Linked DNA regions of Homo sapiens. The protein of the gene in region 3 interacts with the protein of the main gene of each other region in a biochemical or structural test. Each region holds a gene or a part of one and is shown on either strand. Other genes may lie near its edges.

Region 1 (3,500 bases), on a different chromosome or scaffold from region 3:
CTTCTGGGTATGGCATACCCAGTTTAGCATAATGCTGTAACTTCTTGTTAAAGAGACAAAGCCATCACTAATTTTTTTTTTTTTTGGCATATAGTTAAAAGTGACTCAGAAATTTAGATTTTTTCCCTTTGGGAATTTAACAGTGGGAAGATAAGGTTGGTTTTGTTCTGGATCTCCTTCTCCAAGGCCAAGTCACAAAAGCTAACTGGACAAATAAAATCTAAGTGTCCAAAAAAGTGCAGTAAGTAAATGTGAGATCAAACTGCATTTGTATATGGGAGCAACTGCAACAATTGTGTCTACATAAAATCTATATACTTACTGCTTCACACAGCAAATATGCCCCTGAATGGTTGTGATTCAAGCATATGTTTAACAATCAGATCAGACAGGAGTTTGACTAGATGAACTTTAAGCTAAAATGAACAAGTGTTTCCTAAATCCAAGGTAGAATAATGAACACGATCTAATAATTAAGCGTGTGGGGCTGTGACTGGGGCAGGGTGAAGCCCGAGACACAATTGTGCATTCCCCAAAGTCTTACTACAGAAGACTATAAGCAAATATTCAGAGAAAATAAATGAAAAATATAGCAAAATATTAACAGTGATTATCTCTGAGTGGTGGGGTACTAGATGATTTTTATTTACTTTTTAGAAGCTTTCTTGATTTTCCACATTCTCTGAAATTAGCATGCATTCCTTTATTTTATTACATTGAATTTTAGTTTAAGTAGAGGAATGCTGAGAGAACTGACTATTAATAGTGAATACCTTGGCAAAGCATCTGGTAAAACAAATAACCACCATCTGCATATTTGTTTTGGTAATTGAGTCTCTCATTTACCAGTTTTGCTTAAAGGTAGTCTCATCCATGTGGTTTTGTTCACTGTAGAATCCTCAGTGGTTAGCACAATGTTAAACACATAGCACATAGGGAGCAGGTATCAGTTTACGTTTTAAAGAAATAAATGAATTTTAAAATTTGGAAAACATTAATTGAGTCTCTCTGCTTATAAATATGATTTGCAAATTTTATGGATTTGTGAAAATCAAGCCCTTTTATCGCCCTGCAGGAACAGACATCAAAGCCAGCACATAATGAAACATAATGGAGGATGGATCACCTCCATTACTGAGTTGGCGAAGGGTCCTTCCCTGTTAGGTAGGGGTGTCTGACTAATTGGTAGTTAATAGCAAGAGTGTCACTGCTTTTGAGTTTATCATCAACTCTTAATTCTCTGTAGTGTTAGATGGGAACAATGACGCAGCGAATTCCCAAATCATTTGTTCGGTTTGGAAAAGAGGTATGATTTTTCCCCAGAAGGTTTGCCTCCTAATTCTTTTTCTTTTGGACAGTGCCTTTCTTGGGAGTGTTGCCTACCTGGATGATGGGGAAGGTAACCAGAAATAGACTGGGGCAGCGGGAAGCCAGCCTGGGATTAAAATGTATCATCCTTTAGCCTTAGTGCTGAATGTAAAGTTCACTGGTGCCATTTGAGAGGGATAGTACCTTTTCTTTGTACAACACTTCAGATCTGTGGAGCCTGTGGGAGAAGTGAGTGCTTTTTTTTTTTTTTTTTTTTTGAGGCTTTTTTTCTGTCTTTGCTTTTTCTTTTAAAAAATCTCAGGAAGAAAGTTCAATGGTGTTGGAGGGATTATAGCCAACTTGCCTTAGATTAGGAGGATTTCTTCCCTTTTCCTCAAATATTTTTTTTCTCCTCTTGGATGTGGAGAGGAATAAAGTCCATTGATTTTAGTAAAGTTGAAGGTATCTCCTCTTACAATGGAAGATTTTTTTCTTTAAAAATCTCCAGGGGAAAAGATTCATTGCTTTTGGTGGAGGTGGGGGAGCATCTCTCTTTAGGTCTGGAGGATTTCCATTAAAAAATAGGTTTTGTGGAGAGGACCTACAAGGGCAACTTGTTTTAATGAAGCTGGGGAGCCCTCCCTAGTAGGATTTTTCTTTCTTTCCTTTTCTTTAAAAGAAACAGTTTATTGGGAAAAATTAGAATGGGAGACATCTCTCCTGGAAAGATTTTCTTTTCCTTTCCTTGCTTTTTTTTTTTTTTTTTTTTTTTTTTTTTTTTTTAATGAAACAGTGAAGGCTGAAAGATACATAAGGTCCCTGGGATAGGGTGAGATTGGGTACATACCCACCACCCCCCCCACACGCACATTCCCCACCTTGAAGAAGCTTGAGAAAGAGATTTTGTGTGTGTGTGGTTTTTTTTTCCTTATTGTGGGGGATGGAGAGGGTAGTCATCAGGAATAATACGCAATGTCTGCAGTAAGGTGTTGGTGCATTTTCCTGGAGAGAATTTCTTTCTTTGATCCTTTAAAAAATAATCCCTTTGTTAATTTTCTTCTTCCTCTTTCCCACCCCTCCTTCTCTGCCACCTTCACTCTATCCTACCTAGTCCTTTTCCCCTTCCCTTCACATTTCTCCCCCCATCCTCCTTCCTCTCTCCCTCTCCTTTCCTCCGTCTCCCCTTTCTTTTTCCCTCTCCTCCCTTCTCTCCCCCTCTTTCTTTTTCCCTCTCCACCTCTCCCTTTGTCTCTCTCTCTGGCTCCCTCCCTTCCTCTGTCTCTCTCCCTCTTTTTTCCTCTCCCTATCTCAGTCTCTCCCTACCTGCTCCTACCTTCCTCTCCTCTCTACCTGTCCGGCTTTCCCCCTCCCTCCCTTCTCCCCTCCTCCCTCTCTTCCTCTCTCTGTTTCTCTCCCTCCTTCTCCCTTCTCTTCCTTCTTTCTCCCTCTCTCCTTCTCCCCTCCTCCCTCCCTTCCTCTCTCTGTTTCTCTCTCTCCTTCTCCCTTCTCTTCCTTCTTTCTCCCTCTCTCCTTCTCTTTGTTTCTTTTTTGTTTTCAGAAAAATATTCAAGGACTTTGGTGAGTTTGGGGGCATCTTCATTCCTTAAGAAAAATATTTCTCTTTAAAATATACTGTTCATGTTCTTCCCTTCCCGCCCCCCATAATTCTAAATGTATTTGCTTGTTTTGAGAAAAAAAGGGGCTTTGTTGAGGCTGAGAATACTTTTGTTTAAGAGGACTTTCTTGGCTTTGTGTTTCTCCCCTACCTATCTTTTCTATTTGTTCTCAAATTACAAAAATTCTATATTAAGAATAAATCTTTTGGTAAATTATATAAATATATTAAATTATCACATGTTCCCTGAAAATATGTACATCTATTATGCATCAGTTAAAAATTAATTAAAAATAAATAAATAAAATAAAAAGAATAAAGTTTTTGAGTGAATTTGAGTCAACTCCCATTAGAAGGATTTTCTTTCATTTTTTCTTCTTTTAAAAAAATCGGTTTTTTTTTTTTTGGTTGTGTTTTGACAGGAAAATTAATGGGTCTTTGTGACATTGAAGTACTTCTTCTCTTTAAGAGGATTCTGTTTTTGTTTCATTAGTAATATCCTCTTCACCAACACATATACCCTTCCATTCTTAATTTTATTTTAAATCTTAAAAAAAATTGTATTTTAAGAATAAGG
Region 2 (3,500 bases), on a different chromosome or scaffold from region 3:
GTGTGGAATAATCCAAATGCGCTCTACAAGAATTTACTGCAATGATGAATAGAAGTTACATCATAAAAGGGATTTTTCCACCCAGTGGTCTAGAAAGAAGAATAAAGGGATTCTATTACCAAGAACACAAGATCAGAGCAGGCAATAAAAATTCAAATCTCAGGTGCCTTTGGTTAGCAATTGACTACAGACTCCTTAGAAATTAAAAAGATCGAGTAATTTGAGTCACTGTTTTAGAAGTAATTTAAAGAGGATAATCCTAGTTAGTCTGCTTCCTGAATTGATAAACTAAAAGGCTTTAATTTTTTGCTGAAGTAAACGAAATAGTACCCTCTCTGGTCCTTAAGGCTTGTTTAGATTCAGATATACACCATAGTAAAACCTCTAACTGCTCCAATTTTAGCTTTACCTGGTGAACTTTCAGAAAAGTGAATAAATATTTTTCAACTCTTTAACAATTTATTTCTTTTCATACATACTATGTGTTTTGGTTCTTACTCTGAATATCACAGAAAAAATAAAATGAATAAGTAACCTTTTGCCTTCAGGCATTTGCTTCCCAAATTCATCTTTTGTCATCCTTCCAGAATGACATTTCTTAGTGCCAAATTTTAATGTCCACACAAATAACTGGGCAATCTTTTAAAAATCTTTTTTTAAAACCTGAATTGGTAGGAACAGGATAAAATTCTGCATTTCTAATAAGCTCCTAAATGATACTGATGCTTCTAGTCAGTAGATCACATTTTGTGTAGCAGGTTTCCAAAACATCTGATCACATCAATCTTTTATGTAATTTGCTTAGATTGGCCCGGATGGTTGATTTATTCCTTGAGCCCTGTTCTACTGATGGCCCTGCACTGAGTGAAGGGCCAAAGAGAATCAAGGTAAAGGGTGATACATTATATCATGAGAGAAAAACAAGGAGAAAGAGGTAACTGGTGCAGATAAAAGAATAGAGCAGATATGAGCAGGCAAAACATTATATATCATGATGTTTTGATGTTTTTCTCACTCTAGATTATTATATAAAAATATTTTAGAGCTGAAGAGGCATAGAAATGATTTGGTCCAAAGTTTTGTTTGGGCTCCCAGGTCCTGATGCAACTTGAGAGACAAAGTTTATATTTGATAGAGAGAGTATACTAAGTTTTCACAGGAAGTAGCAGAAAACCATGACTCCAAATTCACATTAATTCTTCCAGACCATTCTAGGTATATAAATTATTTATTGGATTGGATGCCTTAAAATGGCTTAAAAGTTCTCTTACTTCCATTGAAAACCTTTATCCCAAACATCACAGGTTTGCCCTAATTATTTGAGTTACATAAATTTCCAGACAAATGACTTCGCTGAACATAATCTTAATTTACTTCTTTTGCCTCTTTTTGCATTCCTTCTTTTCAAGATTCTAGAACAAATATCATCCTCCGTCTTTATGTTATTTGTATGTGGCAACTTTGTTGAAATTCTATTAGTTTTAATTGATTTTCCATGGAAACTGTAGAGTTTTGTGGACAAATTGTCTAAAACAAAATATAATTTCGTATCTTTCTTTGCAACTCTTAGATTTTTGTTGTTGTTGTTGATATTACCTTATTACATTAGCCTCAGAACTGTGTTGAAGAGAAGCATTTACAATGGACATCTTTCTCTTGTGTTTGACCTTGATGCAAATACTTTTAAAATTTTAGTATTAAGCAATATGCTTGCTTTGTGGTTTTGATAGATACACTTTAAAAGCTGGTTTGCTCAGATTTGTTTTTTCCTAACATAAATCAATGGTTAATTTTATTTAGTACTTTTACAGTGTCTATTAAGTTAACCATGGAATTATTCCCCTTCCATTTGTTATATAGGGATTTAATTAATAATTTATTGTTAGTTGGTGGTACTCTTGTACTACTATAATGAACTGCGCTTGGTTGGGATATTTTTATTTGTATATACTATTCCGTTTGCTAATAATTTGTTTAGGATTTTTACATCTATCTTCATAATCAAGTTTGGGCTCTAATTGTCTTTTCTTATATTGTCCTTGTCCAGTTTTGGTTTTAAGAAAATAGTAGTCTTACAAGATGAATTGAGTAGCTTTCTTTTTTTTCTGTTATCTCGAGTGTGTCTGTGTGTGTGTGTGTGTGTGTGTGTGTGTGTGCATAGACAGACAGAAAAAGAGAGGAGAGCAAGAATATGTTACTTTAAAGTTTGGTAAGACATATTTCTAAAACTTTCTGTACCTGTTTTTTTGTGAGAGGCTAATGATGGTAGATATGGAATAATTTTTATATCCAATTTCATTTTTTAAAGATTTTGTATCATCATTTATATTTCAAATGTATCTCCTGACAACTCAGAAAGGATACTAAGGAAGCAAAAACTTTGATAGATACAGTATATATATGGTATATAGATATATATATATATCTGTATTACAGGTACTGAACTCATATTGTCTTGTATATGACATGCCCATTAACGTAACACAGAAATAGCTTGTAAACAGAAGTGTTTATTGTGTGGTATTGGTGGAGTGTAGGCGAGAATAGGAGAGAATTACCTATAAAGTGAATGTCAACTTTCATTTTATGTTGGTTCGTTTATTGTGGTACATTAACAAACATATAGATAGAATTATCAAAATAATATGATACACAATGTCTTCTACTAAATACTTAAATTTCAAATGAGACATCTTGTGCTAAATTATTCGTTTTTTAATATGAACATTAAGAAGAGCTTAATTCTTCTTGGAGCCATAAAGACTAGGACCACTGTGCAAGTCATGTTTCTCACTATCATTCTTATTATCCTCAAGCCCACAAAAATTACTGCTTTATTTCCAGTTTACTAAAGCTGGCAATGTGCGTGAACAGTAGTAAATTAGATGATTGCTTACAGATGTAGGGAAACATGCTTTGCTCAAAAATTGGAAATGAGGAGAACTTCAAAGCAAGGCCACCCATTAGCCATCACAATCAATTGCTGGGAAATTGTTAAGATCTTACTGTATTTAGCATGGTACATCTTAAAAACTAAATATCTCAAATAAATATAGCTAAAGCTTTAAAGCCCCTTGAAGTCTAAAACCCTAAACAATGTTTATCAAAGCATGTTCTAGGAATCATCTCCATCAACACACTTGAGTTAGTATTACAAATGCAGATTTCTTGGCCTGACCTCAGATCCATGGAATCAGAAACGTTTGGTACTTGCCAAGAATCGCATTTTTAACAAGTTTTCATTTCCTTAACCGTTTCCTGTCAGTATTTTTACGCACAGCAAAGCGTGAGAAATATTACTTGAAACATGTTTAATCACTTATCACCATCATCAACTAAAAGTAACGTGTCACATGCTTCATTAGAGACATTTTAGAAAACCATAATTTCTACTTTCAAAAAAACCCAATATTTTTAAACCATTTTTCACAAAAGAGATAAATGGGCACATTTTATAGAGATTTTGTATTTCATAAAATTTGCTTTATAGGCATATGTTG
Region 3 (3,500 bases):
ACTGTAATAACTGAGTTTAGCATTTCAATGTTACTCTATGAACTTTCATTAAACTAGTAATTTTCCTTATTTTTAAATAGAACATATGTACTAGTTTATTAAATAATATTGAATATCTCCTTATTATTACTTTGAATATTGAATACCCCCTTATTGTATCAGTTGTGGGCAAACAATTACAAATTTATTTTCTGTTTTTCATCAGCTTTTTGCTGTGTCCGACAGAGAAACCTCATGCCTTACATGTCAAATAAAACCCAACTTAAATTAGGCAAACAAGCAAGTAATAACCGATTGATTATATTTTTTGGAAGTTTATTTAACTTACTATTCTTTAAAAAACGTTTTCTTTAGGCACTCGAAGACTCCAGCTTCCTGAAAAGAAGTGGCAGGGACAGTGGCTACGGTGACATCTGGTGTCCTGAACGTGGAGAATTTCTTGCTCCTCCAAGGCACCATAAGAGAGAAGATTCCTTTGAAAGCTTGGACTCTTTGGGCTCGAGGTCATTGACAAGCTGCTCCTCTGATATCACGTTGAGAGGGGGGCGTGAAGGTGTGTTGTGTTTTGGCTGTCAGTTTATTTGTTCACATATTAAGGGAGAACTGGGAACAGGAGAGAATAGAAAAATGGAGCAAAAACTAGGCAAAAATTTCACTTAGAAGTGGATTTTCATAGAGACTGGAGTATAATTGGGGGTTTTGTTATTTTTTTCTCCTTCATGATGGTGATAGTTTCATTTTTGAAAAATTTCATTTCTGGAAAGGACTGAGAGGTGACAGTTAATTGTGGCCTGTTTTATCAGTGATAATCTATCCTGGCTCTTCTCTCTCCAGATTCAGGCTTAATTTGTGTTCAAGAGTTCTATAAACTGATATATCTAAACATAGAAAGGAATATAAGATTCTGCAAAAAAAAAAAAAAATCTTCTAGTTTCTGAGTAACTTTCATCCTTGGCTTTTTTCAAAAGATTAAAAAAACTCTCTTAAGCAAAAAAAGAAAAATATTTTTACAATTATTTCTATAGATGAGAAGAAATGATTGCTATCTATCATGATAGAATATTATGTTAAACTTTGTAGATTGAGTAATATACCACCACCTAACATGCAGGTAGAAATCCTCTTTTGGTCCTTTCAGAGTCAGAGCTAACCCAGGACAGAGCAAGTGTGAAAGGAACATGTTAGAGACATTCTGTTGCGGGAAGGAACCTTCTTTCAAAATCCCAAGCTTATGGTCAGTTCAGTTATTTCAATGCACATCTTATTCCTGTGGCTACTGGGTATAGCGTCAGCAATTTCTGAGTGTACATCTCCAGCTATTCAGATTTGACTAGATTGAAACCACAAGTGAAGTTTTTTTTTTGAAATATTTCTGTGCTTCTATCGACATCAATGTGAAAACATTGAGTTCTGGCTGTGATTTGTGCTTAATTGTTAGGGATTTTACATTGCTTGTGTATTTGGAATATTACTTTTCTATTTCTAGATATTTTTCCTAGCATATCTATGACAAAAATGTCAAAAATCAGCAAACTTAAAATAATTGTACAGCGAACACACATGTATTCGCTGCCTAATTCCACCATGATGTTTTACTATGCATGCTTTATCTTATACTCATCTCTCTCTCCTCTCTCTCTCTTTCTCTTTCTCCCTCCCTCCTTTCTCTATTATAATTTAGTCATCTTATTTTTTGAGGCATTTCAGAATATATCACACTTGTCCTAAATACTTCAGTATGAACATCATTAACTAGAATTTATTCTTTGTTTTACTTCTGATGTGAAACTTATATAAATACAACATGCTATGAATTTGTTTTCCAAAAAACCAATCAACAATTTATTAAGCATGGTAACAAAAAACCTGAAGGCTTTATCTTTTAGAGTAGTAGTTTTTAAAAATAAAAAATGTGAAACGCTATTTCAGCATTAACCTTTATAATTACTGCCACACGTATTGGCTGTTTGCTGTCAAGGTGTGACATTTTCATAGCCCAGATGACGATTCCAATACGTTTAAGGAAATGAATCTGAGTATGTGATTCATCTGAGTGGTTAAAGCTGTAAAAGCAGAGGCTGAAATTCTGAACCCGCTGTATTTCTTTTCCCTTACTGAAGAACCTACTCCATGTAATGACAGAATTTATATCTAGTCAAGGAATAAAAGGGGAAGGGATAGAGGGCATGTGGGAATATGCAGGCTTCAGTCAGTTCAGATGCAGTGGCCCACCCAGCGGTGTGGAATCTAAGTCGTCTTCTCAGATCCTTGTTGGAATGGGCACCTGTCCATGTAACCAAAAGCAGAAGGCCACTGTCACATCCCTTTCTGATCTTGGAAATGGGGCTGCAGACCTTGTTTAAAGAGTGCGTAAGTGAAGTCTTGGAAATTACAACTAAGCGGGGAAAAAAAGCCTGGGATGGAGGCACCAGGCCGATAAAGCTCTTTTGTGATCAGTGTGTTAAAATTCTACTGCTACTCTCTAGATTGTAGTCCTAAATTGATGAGCACTATAATGTAGGGTAATATTTTTAGGATAACAGAATTGCAATGTCACATTCTCTAGTTTTACGTGAAAACTCATATCAAGAATGATACTTTGGGGGAAAAAATTCTCTGCAGGACACCGTACTGGGCTAAAAAATACTTTTTCTTAAAAGTTAGAAAGTAAAATAGTCTCTTTATGACTTTAAAATTCCACATGTATGGATTTCGGCAGGAGTAATTGATATACTTATTGGAAATGAGAAATAAATGTCTGATTTTTTAGAAGGTGGTAAAAAGAAAGCACCAGTTTATTGACTACTACTCCTCATGGTCACAGCTGCGTTTACTTTCCCTCTTTTGCCAAGACTCTACTCTCCTTTTACTCTGTCCCTGTCTCATAGCTGTATGTTAAGCGACTTCCTGTAGACTGTTCTCAGTGTTATTTACTGTAGCTTCCTGCCAGGCAGGAGGGAGGGGAAGAGACTGCATTTAACTCAGGTTAACCCTGCAGGTGCTCTACCTGCTGAGAGCTTGTAGCTGTCAGGCACTGTGCACAGCCAGGCCTGGAGAGAACCCTGGTGAGAAGCAAGTAACATTTCCAAACCTTTACAAGTGCACAGGAGGCAGGAAGAGAAGGGTGTGAAAGAGGGACAGCTTGGCTTGGATCTGTAGTGTTGTTCTCCCCCCTTTTCTTCCTTTGTCTTTAAAAGAGTAGATTCATTCTTCTTCTTTTAAGAAAGCAGATTACTATTTGTATCTATCTGACCTTGAGGAGTATCAAAGGGTGTTCTTTTGAATTTGTGTTTAAATGATTTTGAATCATAATACAGCGTTCCCAATATAATTTCCATGGCCACTCTGAAGAAACTGTGAGTTCTGTGCTCTCATTTGGGCATAAGACTTCAGATTCCTTTGGAACTTTAGAAGTCATCCAGTCCAGCCTCATATCTAATGTGTGATTCTGGTTTATAGAATCTATCCAGACCCTTTACAAGCTTGTTTTTTTTTTTCTT

The links. Proteins that work in one complex are often made in the same cells at the same time.
Region 1: the proteins of LMO7 (region 3) and DGKK interact in a test that uses a peptide from one of them, tested with the Homo sapiens proteins (one large-scale study listed by IntAct).
Region 2: the proteins of LMO7 (region 3) and SLCO1C1 interact in a test that uses a peptide from one of them, tested with the Homo sapiens proteins (one large-scale study listed by IntAct).

What each region holds. Positions count from the first base shown.
Region 1 is NC_000023.11:50,460,826-50,464,325, forward strand, and holds part of DGKK (diacylglycerol kinase kappa), read right to left. Parts: intron 1-3,500. UniProt on the Homo sapiens protein: Diacylglycerol kinase that converts diacylglycerol/DAG into phosphatidic acid/phosphatidate/PA and regulates the respective levels of these two bioactive lipids.
Region 2 is NC_000012.12:20,701,832-20,705,331, forward strand, and holds part of SLCO1C1 (solute carrier organic anion transporter family member 1C1), read left to right. Parts: intron 1-3,500. UniProt on the Homo sapiens protein: Mediates the Na(+)-independent high affinity transport of organic anions such as the thyroid hormones L-thyroxine (T4), L-thyroxine sulfate (T4S), and 3,3',5'-triiodo-L-thyronine (reverse T3, rT3) at the plasma membrane.
Region 3 is NC_000013.11:75,800,330-75,803,829, forward strand, and holds part of LMO7 (LIM domain only protein 7), read left to right. Parts: intron 1-354; coding exon 355-553; intron 554-3,500.